6 separate regions of the Homo sapiens genome follow, and all the other regions are linked to region 3. Evidence: fine-mapped expression QTL. A gene starts in region 3. Each other region holds a variant in brackets. All regions are shown on one strand. Distances are between the middles of the regions. Region 1 has its middle 18 kb from the start of RASA3. Region 2 overlaps CDC16 (cell division cycle 16). Region 3 holds the start of UPF3A (UPF3A regulator of nonsense mediated mRNA decay). Region 4 overlaps CFAP97D2 (CFAP97 domain containing 2). Region 5 has its middle 3.9 kb from the start of CHAMP1. Region 6 has its middle 16 kb from the start of CFAP97D2.

Region 1 (5,110 bases), 130 kb before region 3:
ATCCCACAACCGACCCAGCCCCCACGGAGAACCCAGAACCGACCCAGCACCTGGGCAACATTCTGCCCCCGGCCTCCTCCACTTGCTGGGCATGCATCACCGTCATCTGCAGCCACTTTCCCCAATGCCAGAATCAGAAATTTTCAAAATGGTTGAATAGTATTTGGTTATTTTTTGATAGGATATAATGCTTTTGTTCCTTCTTTGACTTCACGTTTTCTTTGTTCTCTAAGCTAAATGCCAGCATTTAAACTGTATACCGAGACACACAATTGTGTGAATATTAGCTTGAGGCTCTCTTAAGACAGACTCAGATATCCAAAGGCTTTGAACTCACAGAATTTTGTAAAACTCGAAGCACATTCGCACTGCCCTTTGGAACCTGCCTTGTCTACAGAGCTAATAGGCAAGACCCAGCTCACCCAGGGGGCTCGGGGATCCCCAGCCCTGCGTGACTTTGCAACACCAGCTGAGATGCCTGGTTCCCAGTTAAGTTACTAGGATGAGTTACAGCACTATTTATTCAAAACTCTGAGAGGCCCGTGTTACTGCTAATTCCAATTTTAACTTTTCTTCCAGAATGGCAGGAAGCGATGAGGGCAGCTGAGGTTTCCAGAGCTCGTGTGTAGCAGGCGCCACGGCTAGTGCATCATGTGAAATTATGTTGCTTTTCTCAACTGTGAGGTGGGGACTCAACATGGTTTCCATCGCAGCCCATACAGGCTGCTGTGGTTGACCAAGCTTCCTTTGCTGGCAGGGCTGGGTGTGTTCTGCTGGCTGCAGCTCACCACCATGCTCAGAATGGCTCATAATCATTTGTTGTGTACTGTTTTTTCCAAAGACACGTCTCTGAGACTACGTCAGCTGCACCTGGACATGGTCACACGTCAACATCATACAGAGTGGTTTCTCAGGTAGCAGAAAGTGACAAATGAGACACGGTTATTCTTGTAAGGCAACTGTGAAATAACAGGGTATCACACAAATTTAGGTGGCCATTGTCTTCGTCTCAAATTTTCTCCTTAAGAAATTAAAAACAGGAGAGAAAAACAAGTTTTCGATTAAAAAACAAGGAGATCCTGGGATCTCCGTGGGGGCTGGGTGGATCCTGGATTCTCCTCGGAGGCTGGGTCGGTTCTGGGATCTCCGTGGGGGCTGAGTCGGTTCTGGGATCTCCTCGGGGGCTGGGTCGGTTCTGGGATCTCCTCGGGGGCTGGGTCGGTTCTGGGATCTCCACGGGGGCTGGGTCGGTTGTGGGTTCTCCTCGGGGGCTGGGTCGGTTCTGGGATCTCCTCGGGGGCTGGGTCGGTTCTGGGTTCTCCTCGGGGGCTGGGTCGGTTCTGGGTTCTCCTTGGGGCTTGAACAGTTGCTTCTTCTTACCTGTCTTCTCAACTCTGTGCCTTAAACCAACTTAACCATCAAAGAAAACAAATTGTATGTGCTTCCTACCCTGGGTCTTCTTAATTGTTTGTGGAATTCTGGAAAATTCACGAGCAAGGCTGTTCCCTCTAATTTAGTGGTTCAGAAACTGATTTTAGGCTTTCCATCTCCTTGACGTCGAAAACTTGCCAAACTTTAACTTCTGTGATCTTTGATTCACTGCTTAAAACAGGTCCTGGGCATCAGGTTTAGATCCACTGCCGAAATGGAAAATCCTGTTCTCAGACACAGCGGTGAGTGTGATGCTGCAGACAGTTCTCATTGGGATCACATTTTCTTCTCTGTTCAGGTGGAGGCATTTCATACATTTTTTACCAGGACCAGACAACCTTGGCAAATCATCTAGAAAGCACAGTAAATGTGAAAATGTGATTAAATAAACAGGTGTTGGATTTCAGAATACTGTTTTATTTTTTTTCCTCAAAAGACATCTGCTTACCAATCTCAGTGTTACTGGGGCTGAAGGCCATGCTCTTTCCAATGATGGGACTACACTCAAGTGCTAATTTATTACAATTACAAGTTTCCCTTCACCACTGCTGATGGCATAATTTGACCACAAGTGTTTTGCAAATATATCACACCTGGTATTCCAGGACCCACTTCAACCACTGGCTTGACTCAGAATTTTCCAACAGGGACAATTAGCATGTGCCACCTGCTGGAAACACTAGCCACACCTGAAGTGAAAGGAGAATCCTGGAAAGTCTTCCCCTGGAGCTACCAGACTCCCCACTCTCGAGTCTGGTGGACACGGCACTGTCAGGACCCCTCCCCTCGGCAGAGAGTGGTGGTCGGCTGCAGGTCTGCCCACCGTCTGACGGGATTCCAGCTCTGCCCCAGTGCTTGGCACCTGGGTGCTTCTGTTAAACCCAGTCCCTCCCAGACCCTTCCCAGATTAAACCTGGACCCAGGACCCCGCCCTTAGCTGCATTATCACTGCCCAGCAGACCTGACCCTAACCCTAACCGCCAGAGATCCTGTTAAGCAGGTCT[A/G]TGGTGGGGCCCAGAATTCACACTTCATCCACTTCCCAAGTGATGCTTTACTGTTGGTCCCAGAATAGGGTGATAGCCCCTCAGTCTGCCAGGGGCAAAGGAGGGTTCCTGTGACCTGGGACTTTCAGCGTTGAAGCTGGAGCAGCCCTAGGGCAAAGTGGGACGGTCACCTCACCTGGGGACCTCACCTGGGGACCTCACCTGGGGATCACACCTGGGGACCTCACCTGGGGACCACACTTTGAGAACCACTTACCTGGATCCTTTATTAATCCTACGGTGGAGAAAAACTGCTGACATTAATTGTGCTGAACTTTGTATTTTTATTGCAGACTTCTTCCTTCGAGATGTATGTGCACAAGAGAAGATAACAAATGAGTCCCCAACACCTAATCTGGAATTTTTATATTAAGTTTTCTCTCTCTTAGAGAAGAATTTTCAAAGAGTAGTCATTCAAAAAGCAAAACACACAAACAAAACCCTAAAACTTTGAGAGACCATTTTATGCCTGGAGCCAAAGATGAATTTTATAGGCTTTGCTTCTTTAGGTCTTGGCTCCAAATTCTACACAGTGCTGTGTTCCTTTCCACCATCAACATACAGAACCAATTCCCCTTCTGGATTGTATGCACTGAAGAACTTTAGCTTTATTTATTAACTTTTTAAAGATCTCTCAATTGGTTACATAACAAACCACCACCAGCCTAGTGGTGTAAAGGAAGCAGCATCATTTCCCGAAATTCTGAGGGTTGGCTGGAAGGTTCTCGGGGCTGAGACTCCTGGGCTGGGCTGGGGTGGAAGAGGGCCTCACTCACACGTGCAAGGCCTTGGCAGAGACATGGCCTCCGAGGCACCTGAGGTCTCTGTCATTCACTCCCTCATTCTCAGGAGGCCAACTCGGCCTGCCCACTTGGCAGCAGAAGGTTCCCACCGCAACAGCGGGGACGTCCAATGCCTTTCAAGCACTTCCCAAGTTTCTGCTGGTGTCAGGGCTGCTTTTGTCCCCTTGGTCAAGCTGCACCGTGTGTCCAGGCCCAGCGGTCACAGGGGAAGGGCCATGCAGGCTCGGTGTATGGAGGCAAGTCTGGGCACCATCACAAACTCACCATTTCAACAAAACACTCATTGTTTCTGAACTATCTTTAAAAACAACTTTTAAGAAATAAGAAAAGCTATTTCCAGAGCACTCACCAGTGCCACGTGCACACGGATCATCTAATTCTAGGGGGGCAACTGCACGGTTTGCCCCCGACCGTCCAGTGTTAGTGTCCAAGGAAGCCCCTCAGTTCCGAGGTGAACCAACAGAACAGATCACCCTGTGAGGTATGAAGTGTTGTCCTCTGCATTCGACAGATGAGGAGGTTACAGCTGCGAGACTGTAGGCGGTTGCCCGGGCGCTCTTCCAAGTAGGTAGCAGGGCCGAGTGAATGAGCCTAGGCACCGCCCGGTATTGCTGCAACAGCCAGGCGGCGCTTTGACTTCTGGGTCAGTGTCACTGCCTACCTGAATCACTCACTTCCTGTAAAATACTTGATTCCAAATTACTTTGGTCTGTATTGAAAAATAAAATTCAAGTTTACCTTTAAAGACAAAGATTTGCCATATTTAAGGATATTTTAGAGAACGTGCTACTGACTCTGAAGAAGAGGCATAAAACCGCCTTGAGGAACGGCATCGTCTGTGCTGAAGCAGGCAGCGCCCAGCTGACGACTGTCAATGCAGCCCTAGCAAACACGGCCACGCTGCCCTCCATCCAGGGTCCTGTCCAGTGCTGTGCTAAGCACTTCACGTGGTGACAGCTAGCTGCACACCAGGCACGGTCAGGTGCTTAGCGTTTATTAAGTCGTTCAATTCTTCTGTAACCCCATGAAATGGATGCTATTGCTAGAGCTGTTTTCTACAGAGAATTTAAGGATTTTGCCTAAGGAGATGTCACCAGCAAGTAGCAGACCATGGTTTGAACCTGTCCCCCAGTCCCAAGTCTACACATAACTGTTGTCCCACGGGTGATAGGTGTGACAGTCCTAGGCTCCAGCTCTTTCCCCGGCGCCACAGTGCCTGCTGTGCTTGGAGACACCACCCTCACCTGACTGGGAGAGCTCCACTCAAGGACCCGCACAAAAATAATCCCAGCTTCCGTGGTTTCCTCACACCATTCCCCGCTCACAGTTTACCTCCCTAGGAACCCAACACTGTTTTCCTGTAGCTCATCACTTCACAAATGTATTGCCTTTTGTTAAAATCGTGAATAAGCCTCTGGTCTGACTGCCTCTGCGGGGTTTTTGTCTCATTTCGTGAAGCCGCCACATGCATATGAAGTAACGCTTTTTCTCCTGTTAATCTACTTTTGCCAGTTCAATTTGCAGGACTCCAGTCACTAAAAAACATAAGTGAGTGAAGGAAAAGTTTTTTTCCTCACCACCTGTTTGTTGGAAAGCAAGTAATGGCCCACCTGGTATTCTTTTGGTCAAGACACAACGGGGAAATGGGGCTCCGGTCAGGCCCCTCAGGTTGGGCCTAATTGGAGCAGAATCGGAGGGGCCTGGGCTTCTTGCTGCCAGTGGCAAATGTCCAGTCAGGAAGTCACACGGGCAGCAGCAATGCCGGCAAGGGACGCTTGTAGCAGGAACGGGGCAGCCTCCCTTACTCAAACAAGACGCGGACTGCCTGAGGCC
Region 2 (5,000 bases), 41 kb before region 3:
AAGTGGAGCTGCTGCGAGCTCCTCGGACGCCCAGCAGTTATTCACACTCAGGGCCTGAAGTGGAGCTGCTGCGAGCTCCTCGGACGCCCAGCAGTTATTCACACTCAGGGCCTGAAGTGGAGCTGCTGCGATCTCCTCGGACGCCCAGCAGTTATTCACACTCAGTGCCTGAAGTGGAGCTGCTGCGATCTCCTTGGACCCCCAGCAGTTATTCACACTCAGTGCTTGAAGAGCTACCCAGTGCTCCACTCCTCTGCCTGACCACTTACTCGCTGCCTCACTTACTCGCTCTCCTGCAGATGTTTACTTCTCCACCTGGTTGATGCTTTCTGTTGCCCCGTTTCGTCATGCTTACCTGTTGTGCTTAGTTCACATCTCCCCTACTGTAACCTCCTGGGGCAGGGCCTTACTGCTTTTGAATCCTTGGTGCCTAGTAAACAGTAGGTTCATAATAAATATGGTTTAACAGGACTGGATTTTTTTTTTAACTGCAAGAGTAAAAGGAGAAATTATGAAATTAGTTCTATTTTATGCTTATGGCTTTCTTTGAAAGTGAAGATACATATTATTTTGACCACTACTTAAACAAATTAATTTCTTTCCTAGTTGTATGAAGCATGTCGTTACCTTGCAGCTAGGTGCCATGTAAGTATGCTCATAATTTCATTTTTATTTGGTTGAATAAAATGAGTGTTATGCATCTCTTAAATATGTGTGAGAATTTTAGTGATGGAGCTTAGCAGGTTAGTAAAGTATTTCATGAGGAAGTGTTCCTTTCCTTAGTCATGTTTGCTATAAAATACTGATTCTTCGTTTACCACATGCTGACATGCATGAAGAAAATTCTACTTTAGACATTTCACATTTAAATAATGGGCATAGTATATGTTATCCTTTAAAAATTCGGATCATGTGTTTCGTGTTAGAAGTCGTGAGTGATGAGCGGCACTTCTGTTTTCCACGTAGTATGCTGCAAAAGAGCACCAGCAGGCCCTTGATGTTCTTGACATGGAAGAGCCCATCAATAAAAGATTATTTGAAAAATACTTGAAGGACGAAAGTGGCTTCAAAGATCCTTCCAGCGACTGGGAAATGTCACAGTCTTCAGTAAGTAGTACTGTGAGCACAGCTCAGTAACGGCGGCGAGAATTGCCCTCATTACGTGGCAGAAACACATTATCTTCTTTTACTTATTACTATATTAAAACAATTGTGGTTGCCAATTTATTTAATTTGCCCACCAAAACCAAAAAAGATTCTGAGACATTTCTGAGCCCTTAGTTGCAAGCTGTAATTGTATCCGCAGATGCCTGCATCCAAAATAGGCTGGCTTGAAACTTCCTTCTCATATTTGATGCCTTAAGCTACTCCCTAAAAGTGGAATAATTTTTCTTCTCCTTTCTGTGTTTCAGCAGTGTTTTGGACCTACACCAAGAAACTTTGATTAGCGTACATTGTTTCTTTCCAGGAAATGGTTTTGTGTTCTGTTTGCTTCAAAGTACATTGCTATGTAATTGTGTATATTTCAGTTTGTATACTTCATATCTCCATGAAATTGCACATTCCTTGCTGGCAGACATCATATAGTAACTTATTAAGTGACATTTACAGATCACTAATCTGGATTTAAAAAAAAAAATAAAAACTTATTGAGGTATAATTTATATGCCATGCAGTTCCCCCATTTAAACTGTATGGTTTGATTCCTTTTAGTGTATTCACAGAGCTTTGCAAACCTCACCATGGTCAATTTTAGAATATTTTTATTATTCAGAAAGAATCCCTGTAAGCCTTACCTGACCTACCAATTTCTCTTTCTTCCCACATCTTTTTTTTTTAAATTAAGACAGGGTCTTTGCTTTGTTGTCCAGGCTGGAGTGCAGTGGCACAATCACAGCTCACTGCAGCCTCAACCTCCCAAGCTCAAGTGATTCTCCCACCTCAGCCTCCCGAGTAGCTGGGACTACAGGCGCCCGCCACCATGCCCGGCTAATTTTTTGCTATTTTAGTAGAGACGGGGTTTCACCATGTTAGCCAGGATGGTCTCGATCTCCTGACCTCGTGGTTTGCCCACCTCGGCCTCCCAAAGTGCTGGGATTACAGGTGTGAGCCACTGTGCCCGGCACAGTTGGCTAAATTTTTTAAAAAATGTTTTGTAGAGACAGGGTCTCACTGTGTTGCCCAGGATGGTCTCAAACTCCTGGGCTCAAGTGATCCTCCTGCCTTAGTTTCCCAAAGTGTTGGGATTACAGTCATGAGCCACTGCACCTGGCCCATTTATTTATATTTTTGGTAGAAGTTTATTACTTGACTTTTCACCTTAGATAGTTATTTTTAAGCATAAAAGAATATTACACATTCTAGGTTTTTGTTTTTGTTTTTTTTTCTGGCCACTCATTAATGTATGTGTTGGGAAGCAGATTCTTCTGTTAAGAAATGCATTTATGAAAGTGTGTGGTACAGTCATTATTTTGGGACCTCTTATCCATTAACTTATTTGCTATGAAATGTGTGATTTATTTGCAACGCATTATTATTTATTTTGTGAAATTACATTTTTAAAAAACAACTCCTAGGATATTGCTTAGTTCGAAGACTCTCATAATTCATTATTTTTTCTAAAATTTTACTTTATGAATCTTCTTCATATCCTTAATGATACTAGCTGCCTGTTGCTGGATCATCTTTAAATTCAGTTATGTGTTCGAGGTCCAGAGTCTAGAATGTGCATCAGATTTCCACATCTTCGTGTTTATGGTAGTCGTGAGATGGCTGTTGAACGCCTTACTATGTGCTAGCACCACAGAGATGGTAGCATCTCTAGCCCTCACAGACTTCTATAAGTTAGATAGTAAAGAGTTCTATAAGTTAGATAGTGTTTTTATCTTTTTACAGATGAGGATAGGAAATGGAGGCCAAGAGAGGTTCAATCACTTGTC[C/T]GAGGTTACAAGTAATTGGCAGAGCTGGGGTTTGAACTCAGGTCTGTGCTGCCTCAGCAGGCCATTGTGCTGACTGCTGTGACCACTCTGCTGCATTGCTGCCAGTTTCTGCTCATTAAGATCCTTTTGAGGGGTGTCTGCCTATCACACTGTCAATCTTGGAGTTTTATACACATGCACACACACTCTGCCATCTCTAAATCATTGCACTGTTTTGGACAAAACAGGTAATGAACCTAGTAGCCGTGACATGTACTTTTGTTATAAAGATGTGTTGGAACAGAGCAGTTGAAGCCCAGGGAAGGTGAATTGAAGAAGCTTTGCTGTGCATTTTTTGTGTGTTTTTATTTATGCCTTGACAGTTGTGATTGACTAAATCCTTTTAAATGCAATAAAAACTTCTCAGCATTCAAATACACAATTCTCTATCAAAAGTTAAGTTTAAGGGCCAGGCATGGTTGCTCATGCCTGTAATCTCAGCACTTCGGGAGGCCAAAGTGGGAGGATCACTTGAGGCCAGGAGTTTGAGAGCAGCCTAGGCAACATAGCAAGATTGTCTGTACAAAAAATTTAAAAAATTAACTGTTTGTGGTATTGTGCACCTGTAATCCTAGCTACTCAGGAGGCTGAGGCAGGAGGGTCATTTGAGATCATAGGAGTTCAAGGCTGCAGTGAGCTATGATCGCACCACTGAACTCCAGCCTGGGAGACAGAGTGAGACTCTGCCTCTAAGGAGAAAAAAAAAAAGTTAAGTTTAAAAGTACTGACTTAATATGTGACTCATCATTTTTCCAACAGATAAAGAGTTCTATCTGTCTTCTACGCGGGAAAATCTATGATGCTCTAGATAACCGAACCCTGGCTACCTACAGCTACAAAGAAGCTTTGAAGCTTGATGTCTACTGTTTTGAAGCGTTCGATCTTTTAACATCACATCACATGCTGACAGCACAAGAAGGTTTGGAAACTCAGGCTTTTTTGTTTTATGTTTAGCAAAATTAATATTGTTTGGATTTTTTGCCTCTGAAATCTTCTAAGTCAACAACAGGCCACATACAGGTTTAAATAGACCTACTCACTTTCTTAATGTCTTCAAATGTAAAGCACGTTGCAGAATGCAGTATTGTACGGTGCCTTGTGCTGTCCGAATCTAGGGATTGTGATAGGAAGAGGCCATCTTTTTGAGAAGTGATTGAGATAGTATAAACCAGGATTTCAGTATCTCATGCAGTGATTCTCAACCGTGTTGCTCTTTACATCCTTGGGAAGACAGAGAAACATCCATGTCCAGTTCCCAACTCCAGAGCAGATGCTTTAAAGCTCCCAGGTGATCCTAATGTACCACAGGCACTGAGAATCAGTCCAAGTATGTTGGCAGTGGTGTGAGGTGCGTCAACAAGGGAAACAGAAAATAGAGTGGTTGGATTAATGGGATTCTAACATATTTTAGCCTAGTGCAGTGGTTCTCAACCAACCAGAGTGATTTTGCCGCCCCCTGCCCCGGGAACAGTTGGCAATGTCTGGAGATGTTGTTTGTCACAGCTTAGGGGCAGGGAGGGAGGTTGAGAGGTTGCTGCTGGTATCTAGTGGTTAGTGGCCAGAGGTCCTGCTTAGCACCTGCAGTACACAGGCTCCCCTGTTCCCAGCAGAGCAAGATCCACGCAGTCAGGAGTGCGGAGGCTGGTGGTTCTTAGGTGACAAGAGCCACCTGGGGACCTGCCTCAGCCCTGAAAGAGTAGCCTCCACCCACCAGATGATTCCCGTCTTCAGGCCTGGAGCCACTGTGTCAGCTTCTGTTGCACATTTTGATCTTATGTTCTCTTTTGAGTTTGATTTACTTAGACCAAGAACTGTAGAATCATATTTTTAGTTGTTGGCTTTTTCCCCTCTATAAATATTATGAGGATATTCTTTTTTTTCTCACCATTTTTAAGAAAAAGAACTTCTTGAATCACTACCCCTTAGCAAGCTGTGTAATGAAGAACAGGAATTGCTGCGTTTTCTATTTGAGAACAAATTGAAAAAAGTAAGTAAAACCAAAGAGTTAGCACTTGCTTTATG
Region 3 (5,110 bases):
TAAAGGAAATACTGGGAAGTGTTACGGTCACCAGCTTCAAGTCACTGTCATCTACCAATGAGATAGGGGCTACCAAGTAAAATGTAGCCCAGGGCCACATTCACAGATGGAAGTGTTCAGTTAAGCAAAAGTAAAGTTACATACTAAAAGCCCACATGAAGAAGGATTTGGAGATATTTCTTCCTGCTTTGCTTTGGCTGTAAAGTTCTGTACATGTATCAAACAGAGCATTTCAACAGGCTGGCTAATGTGTAGGAAGCTAGCTTTTCTTTGTGATATAATTTGTCATGTAAAATCATAAGCTATTTTACAAGTGTATTTCATTCACTGTATCTTAAAATTCATATGGTTTTATTTAAAGATAATTTCATCAAACAGCTGAATTCTAAAATCCTACCTTTTTTTCAAAATCATTTTTCAGAACTTTGCAATAACAGGAAGTAAAGAATCAGAAGGGTGTTAAAAAATTGACTTGGGGGGAAAAACATTTGGACATTTTGCTGGCTAGGTTTACGAAATATACACATCCAGCAAACATGTGAGTCCCTTTAGGGTACAGTGCAGTGAAGGGAGAAGTGGAAATACTCAAGGTTCTGGGGAAGGTCAAATGAAGGGTCCCTCACATTGGCTGAGGCCAACCTGGCTTCAGAGGTGTGCAGAGGCACCAGGCCGAGAACAGGGCTTTGCAGTGGTGAGGGCAAAACATGAACACAAGAAATACCCTAAGTTACTGACCTGGTTGTGCCTGGTGACAGATGGGACCAGCTCTTTTCTCCATTTGGTAATTTTGGAAAATTTGGCAGAGTTAATAAAGAAATCCCCTTGGTGCAAGATTGCTACAATAAGAATCTATTATAGATGGCAGATGTGAAGTTCACAGTCCTTTTTATTATCCTAACCTAGTAACATGACTAGAGGTAAAATTAAATATTGAGTTAGATGATTGTTTAATATTTTAAAACCAGAGGGAAGACATACAAATAGATTGAGAGCAGTTTCTTTCTAAAGATAATCAGAATATATCTCCTATATTTTAAACACTGCAGGAACAGTCAAAATTTTAAAATAAATGGTTTCCACATTTTTTTATCCCCATCTCTCCCCCTGACTATATAGTAAAATATTTTATTTGGCAACCACGTTTTCCTACTTTTAATCACACATCATCAGAGCTTTTCATCAGCCTAACTAGTCTTCCTACTCACTGAGTTGTGACGAAAGCCTGGTCTAGGCACTTTTACCACGGCCATGTTTTTGTTAAGATCCCTGCAGACTGTGAACTATGAAAACCAGCCCCTGGCCCCGCTTGTGGGTGCTGCAGAGCCGCGTGTGAACTGCTCCTAGGAAACCGCGTCTCTGGGCAGGGTGGCTCTCGGGCCGTGGATCCGCCTAAAAGCTTTTCTGCCAGTGACGCCCTTGGTCTCTGGATGTGTTCACGCCTCAGTGATTTTACTCTCTGGTTTCTTGTGTGTGCTTGAGATTCTTGAGAGAAAGCGTGCTGCAGATGAAAAATGCAGCCTACATGAAAAAGAGAAGGGGAAAGCCATTTTAAAATAACTTCCATGTAAGTTACTGTAATCAAAGTGCTGCTGCCTGTGTGTTCATAAAAAAATATGTGCAAGGGCCCGGAGCGGTGGCTCATGCCTGTAATCCCAGCACTTTGGGAGGCCGAGGTGGGCGGATCACTTGAGGTCAGGAGTTACCGAGACCATCCTGGCCAACAAGGTGAAACCCCGTCTCTACTTTAAAAAAACAAAAAAATTAGCCAGGGGTGGTGGCGCGTGCCTGTAGGTCCCAGCCACTCAGGAGGCTGAGGCAGAGGCTGCAGTGAGCCGAGATCGCGCCACTGCACTCCGGTCTGGGCGACAGAGCGAGACTGTCTCCAAAAAAATTAAGAATTCAAATGTGAACCCGGCTTTCATGGCGCCCCGGCCACGGAGAGCCTGGGGGAGTGGGATAAAAACGGTGCTGGGATGGGAGGGCGGCTTGTCCGCGAACTCCTCCCACCACGCCCGGACCAAAGCCGCCGGCGCCCCGCTTCCGGGGCCGCCCTAAACCGCGGCCGCCGCTCCCTGAGGGGCCGCCTGACCCGGCGGAAAGCCAGGCTGTGTGGCCGGAGGTCACCACCCCGACCCCGACTAGTCCCGCAGCGCCTGACCCCTTCGTGGGCGGCCCCGACCGCCGCGGCTCGAGGAGGGGCGGGGCTGGGGCGGCCGAGCTCTCGCGAGGTTTCGTCGGGGGCTGGCGGCTGCGGCTCGGCGGAGAGTGCGGCATGCGCTCGGAAAAGGAGGGGGCCGGAGGCCTTCGGGCGGCCGTTGCCGCGCGGGGCCCGAGCGGGAGGGAGAAGCTGTCGGCCCTAGAAGTGCAGTTCCACCGCGACTCGCAGCAGCAGGAGGCTGAGACGCCGCCAACTTCGTCCTCCGGTTGCGGGGGCGGTGCGGGCAAACCTCGCGAGGAGAAGAGGACGGCCCTGAGCAAGGTGGGGACGGGGGCGGGGCGCGCAAACCTCGCGAGGAGAGGACGGCCCTGAGTGGAGGGAGGGGAGGGAGGGGAGGGAGGGGCGGGGGCCGGGCCTCCCAGCGCGGTACGCGGTGCCTTTTGAGCTCCTTGTCCACGCTCCGCCCCGGTGGGAACGGCCGCGCGCTCCCCGCAGGTGGTCATCCGCCGCCTGCCTCCGGGCCTCACCAAGGAGCAGCTGGAGGAGCAGCTGCGCCCGCTGCCAGCACACGACTACTTCGAGTTCTTCGCCGCCGACCTGAGGTGAGGCCCGCCCCGAGGGGAGGAAGAGAGGGCGGAACCCAGAGCTCGGCGGCGGTGGCCGTCTCGTTGCCTTACGTTCCTTACCCTGATTTCTCCTATATGGGAGTCGTGTGAGCTTTTTGAATAAATACATTTCAGTAAAACGTGTCCGTTCCGTCAAAGAAAAATACCACCAACAAAGAAACACAGATGTGGTTTACATGAAAAATGCGGATGATTTTCAGACGGCTAACGCTTAGGAAAGCGGGTGCCTTTGAAAGGACCAGCGTTGCCCGCCCGGCGCCTCCCGGGCTTCCCTGCTCGTCCGCGGACGGGGCGCTGCGGGGCCGGGGGGCGCCGGCTCTTCCTGTGGCCTCCACGCTGGTGCCGCAGCCAGTGCGGTTTTAAATACCGGAGAAGGTCCCCAAGTCAGGAGAGTCTCTCGGCGCCACGGGTTCCTCTGGGAGTGCGCCCTGGCCTTGCCTTAGGGTTTCAGCCTCGGAGGACCGGTTCTGGGCAGTGGAGAAGGGACCTGAGTTCTGCCTTGTAAAGTTAACGTTTTGCGTTTGTTTTTGCTAAAGAATATCCAAGTTGTTACAATTAACTGAGATGATTTGGCACAAAAGTTTTATCTAAAGTAGTTTGTTGTGCCCAGAAAAGGAAAAAGAGGCTAAATTAATGGACTATTGTATTTTTCACTGACCATTTTCACTGTTATCTCTTATTTCAGTCTTTATCCTCATCTCTACTCAAGAGCATACATTAATTTTAGGAATCCTGATGACATCCTTCTTTTTAGAGATCGTTTTGATGGATATATCTTCCTTGACAGCAAAGGTTGGATTATTGGTTTTTAAAAATCTATTATAATCTGTAGGTATACTAATGAAGTATTGCTAGAATATTCGTGCTTTTTAAATTATTATTATTTTTTGAGACAGGGTCTTGCTCTGTTGCCCAGGCTGGAGTGCAGCAGCCGCAATCACGGCTCACTGCAGCCTCACACTGCGGCTCAAGCAATCCTCCAGCCTCCTAGGTAGCAGGGACCACAGGCGTGTGCCACCATGATCGGCTGATTTAAAAAAAAAATTGTGTAGAGACGGGGGTCTCACTGTGTTGCCCAGGCTGGTCTTGAACTCCTGGCTTCAAGTGATCCTCCCACCTCAGCCTCCCAAAGTGCTGGGATTACAGGCGTGAGCCACAGCATCCGGTCTATTTGTGCATTTTAATTAAAAAGTTCTCAGACTAAAATAAGTTTATAAATTTTGATTATGTTACTGTAATTATGTGCAGATATTAAAAATTGAAATTATTTAATTTTATTATTTAATCCAAAAAAATTCCAGAAATTCTGTGTAATAGTGACAGCCTATTTATGTATTATCATCAGAGAATGAAGGTTTTCATGAGTGAGTTTGTTGCATGAGAGAACTTGATCTTTTTAGGTTCTAAAGCTAAACTATTTTACCTGATAGGAATTTTCCAAAATGTACACTGACTTCTATCTTCCTAAACAGCATCCTTCATGACTGTACCATTTATGATAATGTCACCAGGAAGTCACTGCTGTTAAACAGCTTTGCCTGCGGAGACAGCAGTCTTCAACTCTACTCTCAATAGTTCCCTTATCAGTACTTCTAGGGTTCTGCTTTCATCTTTTTCCTTCTCTTCTCCTGTCAGGCTGTCTGCTGTTGTGTTCCTGGCTGTCAAGTTTGTATACCTTTCACAGCAAGTTGTTTTCTGCCCTCCCCTCCCCAGCCACCCTCTTCCGACTCCACGTGTTTTGACACTGATGAGTGTTTTCTTTTTCTCCAATGAGGGGTAAGGACTAGAAAGATTGTTAAAAAAATAAGCATTAGCCAAGCTAGTTCCTGTGACTAGAAGCAAATGTGATGCTTGAACTGACCTTTGTGTTCATTGCTCATTTATTCAGTAACTTACTGAGTTTCCCTTTTTCACTTAAAAAATATTGGTGGGCCGGGCACAGTGGCTCACACCTGTAATCCCAGCACTTTAGGAGGCCAAGGCGGGTGGATCACGAGGTCAGGAGTTCGAGACCGGCCTGAGCAACAACGTGAAACCCTGTCTCTACTAAAAATACAAAAATTAGCCAGGCATGGTGGCAGGCGCCTGTAGTCCCAGCTACTCGGAAGACTGAGACAGGAGAATTGCTTGAACCTGGGAGGCGGAGGTTGCAGTGAGCCGAGATCATGCCACTGCATCCCAGCCGGGGCGACGGAGCAAAAAAATATGTATGTGTATGTACGTGTATGTATATGTGTGTGTGTGTGTAAAATATGTGTAACATGGCCAGGTGTGATGGCTCACTCCTGTAATCCCAGCACTTTGGGAGGCCGAGGAATGTAGATCA
Region 4 (5,000 bases), 86 kb before region 3:
TATAACAAAACACTATAAGCTGGTGATGTACAAACAATAAAAACTTATTTCTCGCAGTGCTGGAGGCTGGGAAGTCCAAGGTCAAGGAGTTGGCAAATGTGTTTGTAGAGACAAAGTTTCACCATGTTGGCCAGGCTGCTCTTGAACTCCTGACCTCAGATGATCCATCTGCCTCGGCCTCCCAGAGTGCTGGGATTACAGGTGTGAACCACTGCACCTTGCCAAAGTTAATACAATAGACTGAAACATGTCAAATATGTTTTAACATTTTACTTCCTAATGTCTTTTAAAAAAACAAAACAAAACACCTCACTAGTCACCTTTGGAAGGTACTAAGAACCAACTCACTATTTTGAAATTGGCAAATAGAGAAAACCTAGTAAGTTTCTTGCCAGTGCAAAGCTTTTCTTTACAGAAGTATTCCAGCAAACAAATACAGATTGAATGATGGAATTAGAATATCTCCACTTTTCAAACCATAATGAAGTAATGGATCTAGGATCATTCACTGCTGCTAACATCACAAGGTAGAGACAAGCAAAAATTTGTACCTGCCAATAAAATGTCAAGATACCACCTGTGGTTTATCAAGGAAAAAGAAAAATGAACCTGAATTTCTAACTGCCAATATACAGAAAATGTCAGGCATGTGATCAGCAAAATCCAGACTCAGAAACTCTACAGGACAAATTCTCTGGATTTCTCATAGCAAATTGCAGGGAGAAAAACAGGGAAATTGTACATTAGACGTAAAAGATGTACGACCAGTGGCAATATAGGCCTTTTTACGTGAGTCCTGAGTCAAACATGGAAGGGAGGAGGGTGGAAGGGAGATCGGGTCTCCATTTTTTATACTAATAAGCACTCTGTTGGGGGCACTCATTTCCCCCCCAAGAGCATTCTTTGATGATTTTGCCAAAACCAATCTTTACAATGATGGTTACAAAATGGTGATTTTTCGACCACACCACTGCTTCTACGTTTACCAACTGGCATTTTGCTGTAAGGAAACACTCCCTTCCCCCCGTACCTAATGTTTAAATTAAACAAGAAGCAACATCAGATAACATTAAGGGGTTCAAAAGGCCTTGGTCAACAAGTTCTGCCACCAGGCAAGCTAGTGTGACATTTTTAATAACAGTTATGTTCTCAAATCTTTATCTGGAGCTTGAAGAAACTTGCTTCTAGAAAGCTCTGTGTAGGCATCTCAGATTAAACATAGTTAACTCAGAATTTCCTGTCCATGCCCCAAACCCACTCACCACCTTCTCTGTCTTAGTGTCACCTGGTATGAAAACTGAAAGCAGAGGGCATTCTTCATGCCTTCCTTTCCCTTCACCCCCGCCCCACACATGTACACCGCACCTGGGCCTGGATCTTGCCACCTCCCCGCCCAGTGGCCCCACAGCCCTGGGCATGCTGCAGGCCCAGGTCTCCTCCCTGGATGACCACAGGAGCCTTGGCATTGGCCTCCCTGCCTTCCTTCAGGCTTCTCTTCGTTCACACGTAGTGACAGAGGAGCCTGTAAAAAGTGACCATGTGACCATGTCACTCCTCTGCCTCTATTTTCAATGGTTCCCTTTCCTTTGGGGACCAAGTTGCAGCTCCTAAGTGTGCTCTGTGAACACGTCTCCATCTGCCCCTTTCTCCACCTCCTGACATCTCGCTGCATCTTCTCCACCCTCTGTGCTGTCACCACATTGCACGTGGGTTCAGTCCCCAGCCTGGCTATCCTTCTCCATGTGCTGGGGGTTTCTTCCTCCACTGGGGAGTTTCCCAATGCTGTCGCCTTCAGGTTATCCGTGAGCAGGTCCCGTAGTTAACTATCTATAAAGGAATGTCTAGAATATGCGGGGATTCCTTTTTATTGCAAGCAGTGATACATACAGGTCTCATGCATTTAACCTGTCACATTTTAAATATAAATGTTTCCCTTATTTGTACCTTTTCTAAGTGGAAACTTTAGAGATTGTTGTACAGCTAATGCCTAAGGTGCTCATCCTGAAATACTGGTGGAGAGCTTGGAAATTAAAGTGAGGTGGATGCAGGGACATAACTCACTGTATAAAAGGCCTCCTGGCAGCTGGGTGCAGTGGCTCACGCCTGTAATCCCAGCACTTTGGGAGGCCGAGGCAGGTGGATCACAAGGTCAGAAAATCGAGACCATCCTGGCTAATGCGTTGAAACCCTGTCTCTACTAAAAATTACAAAAAAAAAAAAAAAAACTAGCTGGGCATGGTGGCGGGCGCCTGTAGTCCCAGCTACTCGGGAGGCTGAGGCAGGAGAATGGCATGAACCC[G/A]GCAGACGGAGCTTGCAGTGAGCCAAGATTGCGCCACTATGCTCCAGCCTGGGCAACAGAGCGAGACTCAAAAAAAAAAAAAAAAAAAAGCCTCTTGGCAATAGAGTGCAGACTAGAAATGTCACCAGGTGTTGGCATTTAACAAATTCTCACCCTGCACCCACTTAATTCTGTCTTTTAAAAGGGCAATAGAGGCTCATTTCTGAGGGTGCCTGGCTTCCTCCAGGGGATACTCGGATTCCAAATCTAAGCACGAGCCTCTTTCAGAACTTCAGGCCGTGTGCTGACATGGAATCCCTGGTGCCACGAAAGACCCCAGAGCAGCACAATCTGAGCTCACTCTGTTTCCAATACTGCGCCCAGGTAACGCTGCCTCCTCATGCCACAGGTCCAGAGCGCCCAGCCGCTGGTAGACACCCGCGCCCCGCTGACGTTCCGCCATCTCCACCTGAAACTCAAGAGGCTGAAGGTACACTTTCATTTCTACCTTACTTAATGTAATAGCTAACTAGAAAATGCCAGCTTAAAAGCCCAGGAAAATAGAAAAGGCAGGGTTAGTAAGGAATAAACTCACCGAAGACAAAATGCAGTCTAGGTGATTAATTAGCCCCGTCTGTCCGTGAGGGAGCTGGTTGATAATTGGAGCAGAAATCTTTCCCCAGTCGTTGTGCTGACTATAAACCAAAAATTATCTGAGACAGGTCTCAATCAATTTAGAAGTTTATTTTGCCAAGTTTAAGGATCTGCCCGTGACACAGCCCCAGGAAGTCCTTGAAAACATGTTCCCAAGGTGGTCAAGATACAGCTTGGTTTTATACATTTTAGGGAGACTTGAGACGTCAATCAATACGTGTAAGGTGTACATTGGTTTCGTCCAGAAAGGCAGGACAACTTGGAGTGGGAGCAGGGGTACTTCCAGGTCACAGGTGGATTCAAAGATTTCCTGACTGCCAATTGGTTGAAAGAATTTATCTAAAGACCTGGAATCAATAGAAGGGAGTGTCTAGGTTAAGACAAGGGGTTGTGGAGACCGAAATTCTTATCATGCAGATGAAGCCTCCAGGTAGCAGGCTTCAGGGGAAATAGACTGTAAATATTGCTCATCAGAGTTAAAAAGGTGCCAGACTAAGTAAATTCTCTCCTGGATCAGGAAAAAGACCTGGAAAGGGAAGGAGATTCTCTACAGAATGTAGATTTTCCCCACAAGAGACAGCTTTGCAGGGCCATTTTGAAATATGTCAAATAAATATATTTTGGGGTAAAATAGTTATATATTTTTTAAACACCTGCTATCTATCATGTTGGTATCTTATTGCTACAAAGAGTCTTTTTGTCAGTTTTAAGGTCTCTGTTTTAACCTTAATGCTGGTCAGTTGTGCCTAAATTCCATTGGGAGCAGGGCATAATGAGGCATGTCCAACCCCACTTCCCATCATGGCCTGAACTAGTTTGTCAGGTTAACTTAGGAATGCCCTTGGCCAAGAGGAGGGGTCTGTTCAGTTGGCTGGGAGTTGTGGAGGGGGCTTAGAATTTTATTTGTGGTTTACATGACCCATCATGTCTTGGGGGGAAGGGAAGTGGATTCACAGTGACAATTTATTCAGTGCAGTTCCAGAATAACTAGCATCATTCCCTTACAGTAAACCATTTCTTAACCACCTCAGAATGTTGGGTTTTGGGTTTGTTTGTTTTTGAGATAGAGTCTCACTGTGTCGCCCAGGCTGGAGTCCAGTGATACAACTTCAGCTCACTGCAGCCTCTGCCTCCCAGGTGCAAGTGATTCTCCTGCCTCAGCCTGCCGAGTAGCTGGGATTACAGGCGCACCCACCATCAAGCCCTGCTAATTTTCGTGTTTTTAGTAGTGATGGGGTTTCACCATGTTGGCCAGGCTGGTCTCAAACTCCTGACTTCAGGTGATCTGCCCGCCTCGGCCTCCTGAAATGCTGGGATTACAGGTGTTGTTTATTTCTTTTTTCTTTTCTTTTTTTATTTTGTTTTTTAGACGGAGTCTCGCTCTGTTGCCTGGCTGGTGTGCAGTGGCACGATCTCGGCTCACTGCAACCTCCGCCTCCCGGGTTCAAGCGATTCCCCTGCCTCAGCCTCTCCAGTACCTGGGACTACAGGCCCGCACCACCACGCCCGGCTAATTTTTTGTATTTTAGTAGACACAGGGTTTCACCATGTTGGCCAGGATGGTCTGATCTCCTGACCTCGTGAAGTTTACCTCATTTGGTGATTGAGAATTGCATGGTTATCTCGAAGTAATGCCTCCAGGACAAAAGGCTGTGGGCTTTATATGAGCCTGTTAAGCAGTGGTGTTAAAATGGGCTGAACTGAAGCCGAGTAACCAGTCTCCAGCATATCTGCAGACCGACCACTTGGAAGCCTAAAACAAGAGGCAGATTCTTTTCCTCTGGGCTCAAATATTCTCTTCTTATAACTGAATAAAATATCTCTATCTTTCTTAAAATATAAAAAAGATTTCCTCATTAGCACCACCGCCACATGTTACTTTTGGAGGGTCACCTAATTTTACAAGATAGTGCCTCGCCTCAGTGTTACTCTCACTTACTCCACCCAATGCGTTCCAATCCATGGGCAAAGCAGCTGGTGGTCCCCGCTGAGGGGTGACGGCGCGTCCCCGTGTTTACGGTCCCCGCTGAGGCGTGACAGTGGGTCCCCGTGCGTACGGTCCCCGCTG
Region 5 (5,110 bases), 29 kb after region 3:
GTATTACTTCTAATGGTCTACCATCTCATAATTGTTTCAATTTTATTGAAAGCTAACGATTGGGAATCACTTAACTTTTAAAAGGATTTATTATTCAATCACTAAAATCATCCAGTTTCTCTGTTTCTGAGAAGTAAATATAAAAGGTTTCCCAGGACTTACCAGCTAACTATTAATTACACCTGTTGCTTTTCCACTCTTGGAGAGAAAGAGCTCAATCTGACATATTCAGAAAGGTTTGGGGGATTAGCAGTGATTTCAGCACATCTTTGTCAGTGCAATATTTTTATAAAGTGTTCAATGCATATTTGCCAAAGCCTTGGATTGCAGATTTAATTCATCCAATTTCTGGAAAATGTAGTAAAGTCAAGATTAAAATTATATAGAGCAAATAGTCTTTCTCATTACCTAATTTAAATAATACAATATAATGTTTAGCTACATGTATGAGTTATTGGTGAGGCCAGCCGTGTGATAATGGGAGTTCTATTTCTTCAGTAAATATGTGTATGAATATGTAAAACTCTAGCATGGGGCTTTTGGGAATATTGAAAAGATTTTTTAAATTATAATTTTGTTTTACAACATGACCAAGTGTTTTACATGTATTTAAGAAAACATTAAAGTATATGCTGCTGAAAACTAATTGCATTTATCATTTAGTTTATAACTTTTCTAACTAATGGAAGGTGGAAATAAAATTTTTTTTTTGAGACAGGGTCTTACTCTGTTGCCCAGGCTGGAGTGCAGTGGCACAGTCTCGGCTCACTGCAACCTCCACCTCCCAGGTTCGAATGATCCTCCCGCCTCAGCCTCCTGAGCAGCTGGGACTACAGGCGTGCGCCACCACGCCTGGCTAAATTTTTTGTATTTTTAGTAGAGACGGGGTTTCCCCATGTTGGCCAGGCTGGTCTTGAACTCCTGACCTTAGGTGATAACACCCACCTTGGCCTCCCAAAGTGCTGGGATTAACAGGCGTGAGCCACTGTGCCTGGCCAGAAATAAAATATTTAATTGGATAAAGAATGACTGCAACTGGGAAACATTTGGTAGAAACAGGTTTTAACTATCTTAATGATTACTGCACACTTTATTAGGATGAAACCACATAAAAACTTACCCTTAGGTTTTATAGGATGTATTTTGGAAACAGCCCCATTAGCAAATTGCTTAAACTTTGATATATGTTCCTTGTTCATTCTGTGTCTGAGTCATGTTTATGGAGCTGGGGTCTTGCTGTGTTGCCCAGGCTGGAGGCCATTGACAATTTACGGGTGTGATCACAGTGCACTGCAGCCGCAAACTCCTGGCCTCAAGCAGTCCTCCCACCTCAGCCTCTCAAGTGCATGTTTTTGCCTTTCTGAAAATCATACTTTAAGCCCATCCCCTTACCTGTTTCCCCAAACTGTCTCTCAAATCTTTTATTCTTATTGGGTCCTGATACTCATCCTATGAAGTAAGTATTCTCTATTAATGGTCAGAGTTCTTGTTACTGTAATTAAATCAGTATAAAATAATGGCATCTAACATTGATTCTGTTCAGTGTGCTAGCACTAAGTGCTCTGAACACTTCATGCTGTCTTATGCCAAAACAAGCTTATAAGGTGGGTACTATCGTTCCACTGCATGCAAACATATGAGAAAGTAGCCTTGCCCAAGTTCACATTCAAGCATGTGCACGCGCACACAGTAAGTTACAGAGGCAAATTCTAACATAGGTTGGTCTGACTTCACAGCCAAAGCTCTCAGCGACTGTGCCTGCCATTCCCAGAACAGGAGAAAGTATGTTTTCAACCAGCATTAAAGCTGTAGGTCTCTAGTGTTGCCAGTGCCTTACCTCAGCTTTAGTGATGGCAGGTGGTAGAAGTCCTTGCTCGGAGAGGGAGCCTGGCTGCACACCTGGTACACAATGCGGGGCAGGAGAGACCATGGGCTCTCTCTGCAGTTCTGCAACCACAAGCAGTATCCAGGGCCAGGCTGGTTTCTATGCTCACCACTCCTGCTTTTTTTTTTCTTCAACCAGCAGAGCAGGTGACCATAGTTCTTGGGCAGCCTGCTTGAAACAAAGTGCCCTCTGCTGCTCTTTTCATGAAGAGTGTAGCAGGATTGATTGAGGCTGGCTTTGCACTTACACGGTAAACTGGCCATATGAGAACTTAGCTGCTCTGCCGGCCAGCACCAGGCTCCCAGTTGCCTTTCACTCGCTCACTGGCGCTCAACTAGCATTGATTGAGTGCCTGCAATGCAGCAGTCAGTGCCCA[TC/T]TGCCACCCCTGGCAGCTGTGTGGACCTAGACTGCCCTTCAGCAAAGTCTGCTGCTCTGCCTGAGAGGAAAGGAAGAGCCCCATGCCCACCAGCAAAGGCTTCTGGGGCCTGGGCATCCTCTCCTCCCTCCAAAACTGGGGCTAGTGAATGGTTAAAAAAAAAAATTAAGAAAATATTAATGGACTTGATTCTAATTTTTATATTTGATTTTTATTTTTCAGTCCTATTTAAAAAAATGTCTAAAACTCGGAAATAAGGCAAAAAAGAGTGATTGCATGGCTGTGTCATGTCTGACAAGCTCCGATTATTTAACAGTTGACCCACATTTGTGCCCACACTGTGACATCACATGTTTCCTTACGGATTTTTGCCCAGTAGAGATGTGAGTGATTTCTATAACATGGCCTCAAAGGTGGCAGTTGTGCTTCCCTGTAGGATCCTAACCACTTTTGTTTCTAACTGGCCATTTGACTCCACTTTTTCTAGTGGCTGCACGTACTCAGCTTTATGAACCTTCTGAACTAGCTTCATCCTCCTCTGGATTCCCTCATGAATGAGTTAAATAAATCCTCTGAGATTGAGACCGTCCTGGCCAACATGGTGAAACCCTATCTCTACCAAAAATACAAAAATTAGCTGGGCGTGGTGGCAAGTGCCTGTAGTCCCAGCTACTCATGAGGCTGAGGCAGGAGAATCACTTGAACCCGGGAGGTGGAGGTTGCAGTGAGTAGAGATCGCACCACTGCACTCCAGCCTGCCGACAGAGCAAGACTCCGTCTCAAAAAAAAATACAAAATAAAATAAATCCTCTGATATGTGTTCACTTTATATTCGTGTGAGTCATGTGTTTAACTTTTGAGAACTATACTTTGACATTCCCCAAAGCCCAGCAACAGAGCTAGATACTCAGGAGGAATTCCATTTTATCATACTTCCCATTAAGTAACTTATTTTAGTTCCCATTATTTTGCATTATTATAAATTAAGTAGAAATAGCAGAATAATTTGTCCTTTTTTATTATAAAGTAGCTAAGTTGATTATATTAGATCTAAATTATAAGCTGGACTGCTTTTATTATTTCTCTTACAGGAAGCACTTAATAATTTATTTCTAATTTTTATTATGTTCCTTGTAATACATATTAATGCAGCAATTTGAATGGAAAAATTAAGTCTGACTTTCTGACAGAAAGCCAGTCTGATTTTGGCTGCTTCATTTGACAACATGATTCTGTGTAGGTTTTGAATATGTGCAGATACTCAGCACTGTTATTCTTTATACACAGAAGACAAATGACAAAGTCCAGTGCCATCTCAGCTAATGAGTTTGCAGCTCCTCAAAGGCTGTCAGGCTGCCACTTTCTACTGCAATTGTAGTTCACCTGCCTCTACCCATTCCCTGATTCAAGTCTGGTCCCTGGAACATAGTATAGGTTGAGAAAACATCAAAATAAACTGTTGAGAAGTATATGTTCAATAGATCCTTAAGTGAAATTTTGAAAGTCCATAAGGGTCTGGTTTTAGTACAGGATTTTATGAGAGTTATTTCTGCTTTCTTTGGTTACTTTAAAGTTTAGTGCAATATACTGGGAACCTTTCAAAAGGCCAAATTGGGAGTTTATTTGCATTATTCATCTTGAACTATTTAATATTCTATAACTACAATAGCTTTTTTAACATGATTTCAATTCAGAATAATAGCAGAGGGTGTTTTGGTTTTTGTTATTTCGTCACCAAGAGTTGCCTTCTGCTAGAGTTTTGTTCAGTGTTCAATTGGAATAGGTCTCTTGGGATCATCAACTCATTCTGACACTTCAGGAAAAAACAACTGAAGCAGCCATTCAAATTAGGTCCTGCAGCCACAACGAACCTGTTTCATATTAAGAGTCAGGATCTCAAAAAGTTCTCAATCAGTAAATCTTTGCTATTCAGAGAAAATAAAAGATCCTCTCATTTCTGCATTTAACATTTACAGTTTACAAACTGTTTTCATTGGCTCTTTTAAAAGCTTGTAACTAGGTGGATACTTTTTAAAGAAATCTATTAAATTTAATGAATCAATTTTGCTGCAAAAACAAAACTTAGAAAAATCCTAAAATATTTAATATTGATATTTGAATCCTAGAAATCAGAATCATTCCGGAAATTAACACAGGATCCTAAATTTTGCATGAAAGGGAGGTAGAGCCAGGCGCTGTGGCTCACGCCTGTAATCCCAGCACTTTGGGAGGCTGAGACGGGCGGATCACGAGGTCAGGAGATCGAGACCATCCTGGCTAACACGGTGAAACCCCGTCTCTACTAAAAAAATACAAAAAAATTAGCCGGGCGTGGTGGCGGGAGCCTGTAGTCCCAGCTACTCGGGAGACTGAGGCAGGAGAATGGCATGAACCCGGGAGGCGGAGCTTGCAGTAAGCCGAGATGGCGCCACTGCACTCTAGCCTGGGCGACAGAGCGAGACTCTGTCTCAAAAAAAAAAAAAAAAAAAAAAGAAAAGAAAAGAAAAGAAAAAAATGTAAACACAATATAGCAACTTTTGTGATACAGCAAAAGCAATGCTAAAGGGGGAGTTTATAGCTATAAATACATCAAAAACCAAGAAAATCTCAAATTAACAACCTAACTTTACAACTTAATGAACTATAAAAAGAAAAACTAAATCCAAAGCTGGCAAAAAGAAGGAAATAATAAAGATTAAAGCCAAGATAAATGAAATAGAAAATAGAAAACGATAGAGAAAATCAATGAAACCAAAAATTGGTTCTTTGAAAATGTCAAAGCATTATTCACAATATCTTGAATAGGGAAGCAAGCCAAGTGTCCATCAACAGGTGAGTGGATAAGCAA
Region 6 (5,110 bases), 120 kb before region 3:
TCTGCTTGTCTATTATTGGTGTATAGGAATGCTTGCAGTTTCTGCACATTGATTTTGTATCCTGAGACTTTGATGAAGTTGCTTATCAGCTTAAGGAGATTTGGGGCTGAGATGATGGGGTTTTCTAGATATAGGATCATATCATCTGCAGAGACAGTCTGACTTGCTCTCTTCCTATTTGAATAACCTTTATTTCTTTCTCTTGCCTGATTGCCCTGGGCAGAACTTCCAATACTGTGTTGAATAGGAGTGGTGCGAGAGGGCATCCTTGTCTTGTGCCAGTTTTCAAGGGAACGATTCCAGCTTTTGCCCATTCAGTATGTTATTGGCTGTGGGTTTGTCATAAATGGCTTTTATTCTTTTGAGGTATGTTCCATCAATACCTAGCTTATTGAGAGTTTTTAACATGAAAGGATGTTGAATTTTACCAAAGGCCTTTTGGTAGCAGGTCATCTTTACAAATGTTGTATCTACTCCTGACTCATTTTCAAAGCAGGACTCACCGTGACCCCCCCTCATCCCGCAATTGTTCCACTGCCTCGTCATTCGTCCCCAGCTTGTGAGAACGCTCACGTTGGCCCTCCGTGCCCCTCCTGATTGTCACCCACTGGGTGAATCAGTTTCCTGAGCAAAGGTTCGCCTCCAATGAGGTCAACGCACATGTGGCAGGGACCCAGTATGGTTTGTTCGGAAACCCGTTTCATGCGGAGCCAGCAGAAGCCACGTTAAACGCACGCGTTCTTCCATCCCTCTGCTCACCGGAAGCGAGCTTCCCAAGGCGGGCACGGCGCCGCCCCCCCAGTCACGCGGCTTCCGCTTCCGGTCGTGCCCTCTCGCCTCTAACTAGAGAACGCCTCGCGGTGTGAGTGAAACTCTGGCGGCCTCGCTAACACGCCAAACCTCTGTCCTCAGAATACGAAGGGCAAAGTGTGTCCCACTCACGCGCAGGCTTCCCCGCGGCGGCCACAGCGGCGGGGGGCGGGGGTCGTGCTCACCGTCGTCCAGTTCACCGGCATGTTTTCAATCAGCCATCACGAGCGAAGTGCTGCTTCGTGTCCACCAGGGAAAGCTTCAGGGAGCACGTTATTGGCACTCAAGATGCCAGCCATGGGCTGCCTGGAACGACGGTTTTTATCATTTATGTGAGTCCTGGGACATTTTCTTCCAACAGACCTAAGTATGTATGACACCAGCATATTACACGAAGCCGAGAGGGGGCTGCTCTGGGTGAGCGTGGAGGAACACACGACCCCTCCCACGCTCACGTGCCCACAACCTCCAGGACAGCCCAGCCTGGGTGAACTGCAACTTCTTTAGCTCAAGGGACATCTGCTTTTCCCCAGAGGGGCCCCTGGTGCAGAAGCAAGTTGGGGAGTGTGCAGAGCCGGGAAGAAGCAAAGCGAGGGTATGGGTGGGAGGGAGTGGGAATCCTTGGATTTGGCAGAGAACAAGTAAATTTTCGGAAATCATAGTCAGCGTGGTCTCCACAAAGATGAGAGGGCAGGAACTCGATTGGAAGGGGGCCAGTGAAGCTGCTGTCAGGAAGCTCTCACAGGGCAGTAAACAGCTCCTGGCACCCGGAATAGGAGGAGGAAGTCGAGAACCCACAGCCGCCCTGCCCAGCCTGGCTCCTCCTCACCCGCCCAGGCTGCTGTGCTCCTCACGGGAGGAAAACCCGCCTGCGTCCAGCTACCTCCAGGAAAGCAACAACTGCCCGTCCTCGACTAAAGGCCAAACCTTTTAACATTTTTGTCCTTGACCACGGCATCAGCTGTGCTGTCTACAGAAGGAACTATATTATTCCCACTTAAATAGCTCGGTGTTTCGTCAAGAGAGTGCAAACACGAGGGCTTCGGTAGAGGGAGGAGACACTGGCTCAGGAACCAGAGCTCACGGTTCCTGCTGTCTCTGCCCCTTGACCTCGGTGTGAGGCGGCTGCGACTGGGTCTCTGCTGTGTAAATATTGTGCCTGAGGGCCATTTTGACAATGACCGTTTCTACTTTAAAAACAAAGCAGACCAAGGGAGTCTCTGGTCCAGGGATAAGGTGCCTGCAGTGCTTTTCCGACACCTAAATCTCTGCTTTGTCCTGAGAGAAACAAG[C/T]GTCACGAACTTAGCTCACTGTTGGTGAAGTGACGGCCGCCAGGGAAGAGTGCAGGGATCTCAGGAGAGACGCTCGGGTCCTTTTTCAAAACCAGTGTGATGCACGATATGTGACTACTCGCCAGAGTCTCGGGAGAGTGTGACGAGCGATGGGTGGCTACTCACCAGAGCGACTGGATTTCTGTCTGAGGCTACTGCATATGCTGGGTCTTAGCAAGCAACGGCCATGCGGCCATCAAGGCACAACAGAGAGCTCTTCTTCTAGGAAGTTCGAGGCATTAAAAATTTCCTCCACTGGGAGCATGAGCATAAATATCTTCCATATTGTTCCCAGTTTTTCTGAAGGCGAAAGAAAATAAAGAAGGCCAGTCAATTAGAAATCTGAATTTTTCTATTAAAGAAGGCAGGGGTTAGCCGGGCACAGTGGCTCACGCCTGTAATCCCAGCACTTTGGAAGGCCAAGGTGGGTGGATCACTTGAGGTCAGGAGTTTGAGACTATCCTGGCTAACATGGTGAAACCCTGTCTCTACTAAAAATACAAAAATTAGCTGGGCGTGATGGCAGGCGCCTGTAATCCCAGCTACTCGGGAGGCTGAGGCAGGAGAACTGCTTGAACCCGGGAGGCAGAGGTTGCAGTGAGTGGAGATCGCGCCACTGCACTCCAGCCTGGGTGACAGAGTGAGACCCCATCTCAAAATAAATAAATAAATAAAAATAAAGAAGGCGGGGGTTCCTGTCTCTATTTTTCCAGGAGAACAAATATTACCAATGTACAAAACTAGGGGGAGACAGGAGTGACTTTACCTCACTGCCAACGCCTCCAACACAGTCTCCATTCACAGGTCAAGACAGAAAAGGAGTTTCCTGGAAGACTGCAGAGTCTGCCACAGACCCAGGGCAGCTGGACTTCCTGCAGATCTAAAGCCAGGGCTGGAAAAGCCACCCAGAGCCCATCAGGCCTCCTGGACCTGCTTCTTGGTCCCTCTTCTCAAAGTCCTCTCCCCTGAAGGCTATTTCCCCTGCCTCTCCCTCATCTCATCTCCCACAGTCTCCTAGTGTCTCTGCCAGCCACATGCCGAGAGAACCAGCTGCGCCCCAACACTTCCAGTCTCTAGAGAGATCATTTCCGTGATCCATTCAGCTGGGCCCAGGCCGAGGGCAGGGGCAGGAGTGGTCATGTGTTAAGAACAGGGCAGACTGGGTGGGTTGTGGGTCGTGGGGAGCTGGGCAGACACCCTGCAGGGCGTCCACAACACCCGTTCCTAATGGGAATGTAACTGAAAGATAGCGGAGATGAGCTTTTCCCAGAGTTTGGGAAAAGCATAAGGAGTGAGGAAGGCTGCACCCTCACCAGCCTTCCCCAGTGACGACGGAGCTGTACACCCTCAAGCAGATGCTGTCAACTCCTGGGAGACACAGTTTCTTTACTGAAAACACGAGCCTAGACTAGGACTGGACGGTTCTTGCTTTGTTTTTTTGTTTCTTTCTACACCATTCACATTCCATTGGTAGAAGTGCTCCTTCCATACCCGGCAGGGGGACCGAGGGGGCCATGTGGCACTGAGCGGGCTGCCGGGACCAAGGGGGCTCATCAGCCCCTTAGGTGGGGTGGGGGCATGCACCGTTTGAGCACCACCGCCGGACTCTGCACCCAGCGAGGGACCCTCTCCTCCCTGCCTCTGACCACCACTGTGAATTACAACTCCAAGCAGTGCTTCCCTGGCCACGCAGGAGGAGTTACAGGGGTTGAGGAAGCGTGGCCTAAGGAGAGGCAGATGGGGGAAGGATGTGTGCTCTGCCGTCTTCAATACTGAGGGGCCTCGTGTGCAGAAGGACGTCGTTTCTTCAGTGTGACTTCAATGGGCAGAATTAGAATAAAAAGGTAAAGTTTATTATGGAAGAAGGTAAATCTCAGCTCATCTCAACCACTTTCTCTAAGTTAGAGTTGAGTTGACCCCCGATTCAAAGGTGCTGCTTCGGGAAGGCACAGTGCATGTCCCTGTGCTGTCTATGGCAAGAACTTGATTCAAGGAGGATGGAAGCCAGAGGCACCCAGCTCCTCCACCATTCAGCCCGAGGCCCAGGAGCACCGTCCTTTCCCAGTGCTTCTACCTCTGGTCTTATTCGCCTCTTGTGACACAGCTATGATGTGACGTCCTGCATTTTACTGATGTGGACGCTGAGGTCCAAAGACAAGCAGCCTCCCAGGGACACACGGAGCTGGAGTCCCCCGAGTCTCTGGGCTCCTGGCTGGGGTTCCTGCCGCCTGCCCTGCTGCCAGCACAAGCGTCCTCGTCGCTGTCTGGGGTGCACGCTGGGGCATGTGCTTAGTTCGTACTTCCCATTCATGGAAGAGATGATGAGCCCCAGTAAGAAAATAATTTGAAAATAATTTACTGGTGGGTGCACGCTAAGTTCCCACAAGGAAACAGACATGCAGTTCGGTGCTGAGAGCTCAGTGACCATCCTGGGGACAAGTGGTGTGGGAGCGATCACACTGCACACCAGGCCACCTGCCCCCCAGCTTCCCAGCTCACCCTCACGCCTGTCTTCCTCACCCCAGCCCACCCACACGGCCCCTTCACCATGCACAGACCCTGGCAAAGCGCAGAGTGCCTTCACTCGAACTTTCTCAGGACTACAGCCTGCCCGGCCAGTCGGCCCTTCCTAGCCTGCTTGGAAGGTGAAGAAAGTGGTCTCCATGTCACCCGCATAAAAGGCGACGACTATCTGCTCGGATGTCATAGGCTGACCTTCCCAAAACAATCTCCCTCAGAACCAACCTAGGTGCTCAGTGTGAACTCTCACCCATTAGATTGACAGAGTGGTTCTCGACTGGGGTTGATTTTTGCTGCCATCTCTCCCCAGGGGACAGCAACGCCTGTAAACTCTTTGAGCTGTCACACTGGATGTGAGGCACACCTACAGCCATAGAATCCTAGAAGCCAGGGGTGCCACCCAGATCCCACAGCGCAAAGGACATCTCCCCACAGCACAGAATTGTTTG

Evidence for each region.
Region 1: its variant is fine-mapped to the expression of UPF3A in stomach (GTEx, PIP 0.95).
Region 2: its variant is fine-mapped to the expression of UPF3A in whole blood (TOPMed, PIP above 0.99).
Region 4: its variant is fine-mapped to the expression of UPF3A in lymphoblastoid cells (TwinsUK, PIP 0.91).
Region 5: its variant is fine-mapped to the expression of UPF3A in monocytes after LPS (Fairfax 2014, PIP 0.91).
Region 6: its variant is fine-mapped to the expression of UPF3A in whole blood (INTERVAL, PIP above 0.99). The same link has a PIP of 0.9 or more in lung.

The regions. Positions count from the first base shown.
Region 1 is chr13:114,147,942-114,153,051 of GRCh38, forward strand. No RefSeq gene overlaps it. Among named protein-coding and RNA genes, the nearest start is that of RASA3, 18 kb to the left of the region's middle. RefSeq lists enhancers at 379-438, 769-948, 2,856-3,356, 3,357-3,857. The variant A/G (reference allele first, on the strand shown) is at 2,436.
Region 2 is chr13:114,238,384-114,243,383 of GRCh38, forward strand. It overlaps CDC16 (cell division cycle 16), which reads left to right. Exons shown (of 18, transcript NM_001078645.3): 4 at 607-645; 5 at 967-1,107; 6 at 3,738-3,897; 7 at 4,874-4,965. Among named protein-coding and RNA genes, the nearest start is that of MIR548AR, 3.6 kb to the right of the region's middle. The variant C/T (reference allele first, on the strand shown) is at 2,940.
Region 3 is chr13:114,279,368-114,284,477 of GRCh38, forward strand. It overlaps UPF3A (UPF3A regulator of nonsense mediated mRNA decay), which reads left to right and starts at 2,234. Exons shown (of 10, transcript NM_023011.4): 1 at 2,234-2,479; 2 at 2,654-2,760; 3 at 3,470-3,576. The coding sequence starts at 2,273. It overlaps LOC105370384 (a long non-coding RNA gene), which reads right to left and starts at 1,702. Exons shown (of 4, transcript XR_007063887.1): 1 at 736-1,702. RefSeq lists enhancers at 1,462-1,761, 2,215-2,902 and silencers at 1,982-2,251, 2,482-2,661, 3,042-3,251, 4,869-5,065.
Region 4 is chr13:114,193,709-114,198,708 of GRCh38, forward strand. CFAP97D2 (CFAP97 domain containing 2) reads left to right here. Exons shown (of 4, transcript NM_001395229.1): 2 at 2,688-2,768. Among named protein-coding and RNA genes, the nearest start is that of CFAP97D2, 17 kb to the left of the region's middle. The variant G/A (reference allele first, on the strand shown) is at 2,300.
Region 5 is chr13:114,308,022-114,313,131 of GRCh38, forward strand. No RefSeq gene overlaps it. Among named protein-coding and RNA genes, the nearest start is that of CHAMP1, 3.9 kb to the right of the region's middle. RefSeq lists a silencer at 5,073-5,110. The variant TC/T (reference allele first, on the strand shown) is at 2,262.
Region 6 is chr13:114,160,526-114,165,635 of GRCh38, forward strand. No RefSeq gene overlaps it. Among named protein-coding and RNA genes, the nearest start is that of CFAP97D2, 16 kb to the right of the region's middle. RefSeq lists an enhancer at 1,227-2,127. The variant C/T (reference allele first, on the strand shown) is at 2,103.